2 separate regions of the Homo sapiens genome follow, and region 2 is linked to region 1. Evidence: fine-mapped expression QTL. Tissue or cell type: minor salivary gland. Region 1 holds a variant in brackets; the other region holds the start of a gene. All regions are shown on one strand. Distances are from middle to middle.

Region 1 (2,689 bases):
CTGTATGAAAATGCATAATTTTTGGAATTAGAACAAAAATATTACTAAGTTATTCCCTGCTCATTCACTGCACCTGGAGAGCAAGGCCTAATGACAATCAATTAAACCAGCTCTCTTAAGACTTGAGTCATCCTAATAGTGAATGTGTATGATCCCAAACAAGCAGATGCACTGAGTGGTCCAGGGTTGTAACCTCACACAGACATTGCTGAGGCTTAGCCTCTAGCTTTTCCAGAGTGCATTCCAGCATCGTCCTTGCTGCTTTAATAGCTAGAAATGGTGAAAAGCAACAGATGGTGACAGTTATGACTGTCAGGATGCCAAGCTCAAGAACGGAATTTCTACTTCAGGACTATTTTGCAAGGATACAGTAATAGCTGGGGAAATCTGAGCATAAAGCTTTCTGCAATGCTAGTCTGGCGATTATATAAGAAGGTGATTATATAAGAAGATCTTATAATTTAATAGGAAGCATTAACATTAAGTTAAGAGCAGAACAAAAGTTCAACCAAACTTCTGGAGTAGATCATTGAATTTCTTTTTCTAGGCTTTCTTAAAAATAAAATCTAACTGAAAGCTGTATTTTATTTTTTATTAGTATCTGTGAAATGGCTATTATGGATCCTTTAAGTCAACTCAAATGATTTTGAATCCTGGGAATAGATTAAGCAATCATCAATATTCATTGACTAGCTATTTTGCATTTGCTATTGAAAGGTTATAGATACAAAACAAGTATATTTTTAATGGAATTTCTACTCTAGGTGGGGAGAGAAAATGTAAAACGAGATCATATAATGGGTAATTAAGTGTTAAAATTGCATATTCAATCATATTTTCTTGATAATGAGATGTACTATTTATTTAATTACAAGCTTTTGAATTGTGTTTCTTTTGGCATCAACTCATTCTTTCATCAAATAAATAGTTATGAGCCCCTATATCATTGTGGTCACTGGAAATACAGCAGGAACAAAATAAAAAAATCTCAACATTGTGGAACATACATTATAACTCGGGAAGAAAGAGACATAAAAG[A/G]TATTAGCTAGAAGTGCTTCATAAGTACTAAGAAGAAAAATAATGTAGGCAGGTGGACATAAATGTCTTTGGAAGCTGTAGTTTTAAACAGTGTCACCCTGGCTAGGTGTAAGACAGTGCCCTCCTTCTTTCAGTGATGGCGTATGTTCCCAATGTTTATTTTCTTTTTGGTTTTACATTTCTACTTTTGAAATTTGTTCCTGAAAACTATCCAAGCTGTCTGTTAAAAATTTAAGTAGGGGCCAGGCTCAGTGGCTCATGCCTGTAATCCCAGCACTTTGGGAGGCTGAGGCAGGTAGATCACTTGAGGTCAGGAGTTTGAGACCAGCTGGGCCAACATGGTGAAACCCCGCCTCTACTAAAAATACAAAAAATTTAGCTGGGCGTGGTGGTCCGTGCCTATCGTCCCAGCTACTTGAGAGGCTGAGGCAGGAGAATTGCTTGAACCCAGGAGGCGAAGGTTGCAGTCAGCCAAGATCGCACCACTGCACCGTGGCCTGGGCAACAGAGCGAGACTCTTTCCAAAAAAAAATTAAGTAATAAGGTGAAGAAAAAAGTAGGAAATTTACTGCAGGTTGAAGTAAAAAAATGCAATAAGAAATCTTTCATCATCTCAGTGTCCAAAACAACTGCATTCTGTTATTTGACATTTATTTATTAATTTAAAAATAATTAATGAGCCTTCATTATGTGCTAGACACAAGATTTGCAGGAAGTATATTATTCTAGGTAGAACAGCAAGAGTAAAATTCCTGATTCAGGCAGGAATAGGCTCACTGTCCTGAGGAAGAGAGAAGGCCAGAGCAGTTTGCAGGGAGTCAAGGAGAGGTGGAGTGGTAGGAGATGGACTCAGAGACACAGGGATAGGCCAGGTGGTGTGCTATGCTTCCCAAACCTCTGAAAACCCAAGTATCCTCCAGAATGCTTCCTGAATGCATTGATTCCTAGGATCCATCCTAGAACTATGGAATCAGAATCCTTAGGCAAGAGTTCTGGGAATCTTGGATCCCAGGTGATGTAGGATATAGGCCATGGGAAAATGTTTGAATTTTAGTTCAATGGCAATAAGAAGGCAGTCGTGAATGTGTGTATGTGTGTGTGTGGGTGTGTGTGTGTGGTGTGATATGATCTGATTCAAACTTTCTGCAGATCACCATAACAAAAATGGGAAAGAGTGGATACAGTGACTAGTTAGCAGCATGTTCCAATAATTTATTAGAGAAAGAAAAGCAAAAAATCAGAGATAATAGTTTTGTTGTTGCCACAGGCTTGCTGTAACAATTATATGAGATAATACTCGCATAGTTCTTAGCATACTATCAATGTTTTATGCTTAGCAAAAAATAATTTACTTATCACTATCATGATATCTTTTGAAAAAAAGCTATTCAATTGTTCCAGTCTCACATGGTCAATAATATTTTCCCACTCACTTGTGATGCCTCCCTTATCATTCTTTAATTTCTCATATGGACTCAGATTGCTCTATGATTTCTACTTTTCCATTTGTAAATTTGCATGCATGTACTTTCAGTAGTTGTTGTTTAACCAACTTTCTTGTGTTGCAACTTTTAAAATCAGATTTATTCTCTTAGGGCTTTATATGCATCCCATCTAGGAACTTGGGACAGGTGTTCTGGGACTATATGGA
Region 2 (2,689 bases), 270 kb after region 1:
AATCCAGTATACAAAATACTTTTTTCATTTAAATACTTTGTGCTATTTCCACTGATTGACATTTAAACAATCTTTAATTGTACCATATATGCTAAAAATGATAAGGTCAATGTCCCAACATCCCAGCCTGCTCTTTTCATACCTTGTTTTTCCATTATCTATTGATAGATATCAGTTATCAATTTGTTGGTTATGTCTATGTCAATGGACTTTCAAGAGAAACATAACAAATTGCTAAAATACAAATCCTGTCAATTAAAAGGTAGGGTGATGACACATCAAAATACTGACTTTAAAATGCCAATACATATATATATCCACGGTCTTAGTTTGATTTTCTTATGATTTAGGAATTTTATCATTTCCCCCTCAAGTTTTTCATGACCCATTTTTTTTGTCTTTGAGGCTCTGAAAATGATCTTTATTGTCCCACACCCTGCGATTCACCTGTTCAAACCCAGAAGTGAAGGGCGGGAATCAGGACCCGGGCTCCGGATGGAATCAGACCATGTTTTTACCACAGAGTCCTTAAATTAGGGAGGCCTGCTTGATATACAACTAAGGAAAATTGTCCTTTAATTAAGGGGCATTTGTGTTCCTCTGTGATTTTTTTTTGCAGCAATATGAAAACATTTATGAAATGTTTATCCTCACATTCTGAAGTGCACTTTTTTGAGTCCTTGGCTCATTTTCAATTACTGAAATAACCAAAGAAAGAACAAACAAATCCAAACAAGTACATGGAAAATACATTTTCCCCCTTCTCTTATTTCTCTAGTGTACAGTCTGTTCTTGTTTATGATATTTATATCAAGATCCCCTTTCTTGCATAAAATTGATAATTAAAAGGAAAACACTTACCCAGAACAAGAAGTTGAAGGTAAACATAGAATATTTTATACAGGCACTCACACCTGCCATTTCGGAAAAGGATTAGGAATCCAGATGCCGTGAATTTAACTATTCGTTACAGGCTTGTCCTGCAATATGCTCTGGAGCAACTTGCCTGCAGAGATTTCTGTATCCACGGCTTCAGAGCAGAAAGAGAAAGCAAAGAAGTAGAGGGAGGAATAAAAAGTTATTAAACTGGATAAAAAAATTAACCCACACATTTAAATATCGCAAAGGCTATTAACCCACACATTTAAATATCTCAAAGGCTATTAACTCACACATTTAAATATCGCAAAGGCTATCTCCAGGCAAGTATGTTCCTTTGCTTGTCATAGCTCCTGGGGCACTGGGCCAGGATATTTATGATCCTTTCTCAAAAACTGCCTCCTCTAAAGTAAACAGATATCAAGTGAAGGGAATGGCACTGGATCAGGCAAGAGAATGGCACAGTGCTACTAAGTTCTTGGCTTTCAGAAACCACTGCCTGACTTCCCCGCCCTCCATTTCAACTATGGGGAAATAAGGTTGTTTTGTTCTGAGTTAAATGGACATTGTATCTCTACTCATTTTTGCATTGCATTTTCTCAATACTACAAAATTCCTTCTAAATGCAATAAAATGCATTTAGAAATCTGCAAAATATCAAAGCTTAGACATAGCAACCTGTTATCATTAAACCTAGAATAGTAAAATAACCATTACATGTATCTGCCCTCCAAAACATCTAAATTTATTTCAAAAGAATTCCAGAGCTGCCGTAAATACACCACAGAAATTGCAGAGGGAGAGGCAGCCTTGCCTATCATGATAAGACCATTTGCTTTTTATCTTTATTTCTTTATGATACAAAGGGAAAGAAATCATAAAGTGGCACTGACTGCAACATTGTTTTCATTTTATAATGCGTAGTCATTCTGATAGCTTGGTTTGTTTTTAAGGTGGACACTGTAATTTCCTTCCTCTGATAAATTGTATCTAGCAACAGCTGTTCTCCACCAACTCAGTTTCTGGATTCCAGGTCCTCCCGGACAAAAAAATTCAAAATGGGAAGGTGGTCATGGATCAGTGACCATAGATTTTACTATTTGTTTCTAGTGCTAATAGAAGGCAGCTGTCTCAGGTAAAGGCAAAATGCTCCGACATCATCAGGGAGGTGTGGACTGCTTTGTGTAAACAGCCTGGGTCATGTTAGTTTCCACATCCTGCCTCTCAAAGGGAGTTCTTCTCCCCCTAAATAAAAGAACCCTCTACTTTAAAAGGTTGTTGAGAAAATTATTCTTTAGAATCTTTGCTAAGTTTTACACGATAAGCAAGCATGAACTCCTTACAAAAGAAAAATATTATTTCTAATTTTCACTGGCATACAATGTTTTTGAAACAATTCTACTCCCTGACTACAAATACAATATATTTTAATGCATTATCAACAATAATATATAGCGTTAAAGGCCAAATTTAGGATTAATTCCAAAAATAATGGCTTAATATATAAATCATCACTAAAATTGTTTGTGTTCTCTTTCCTACTAGAAAATGGATAGTTTCACAACCTTCTATTGAGATATTTTGTATATAGAATAATCCAAGGCTGAAAGAATAATTTCAGATTGAATGAAAACCAAAATTGATTCATAGTCCCAGAAATGATTATTTATCAGAGGCTAAAATTAAAAAAAAATTACAGATTTAAATGCTGCTTTGTTGAAAAGAATGTATTGAATACTACCAAATTTTAGTTTGAAATAGATATTTTGGTGGATGCTGAACATCCTTAAAAAGAATACTGTGTAGTCTT

Evidence for each region. PIP is the estimated chance that this variant, and not a neighbour inherited with it, causes the effect.
Region 2: it holds the start of TSPAN8, and the variant in region 1 is fine-mapped to the expression of TSPAN8 in minor salivary gland (GTEx, PIP above 0.99).

What each region holds. Positions count from the first base shown.
Region 1 is chr12:70,885,890-70,888,578 of GRCh38, forward strand. All of the region lies in intron 2 of PTPRR (protein tyrosine phosphatase receptor type R), which reads right to left. Among named protein-coding and RNA genes, the nearest start is that of PTPRR, 34 kb to the right of the region's middle. The variant A/G (reference allele first, on the strand shown) is at 1,039.
Region 2 is chr12:71,156,758-71,159,446 of GRCh38, forward strand. TSPAN8 (tetraspanin 8) reads right to left here and starts at 1,242. Exons shown (of 9, transcript NM_004616.3): 1 at 1,173-1,242; 2 at 862-1,030. The coding sequence starts at 921.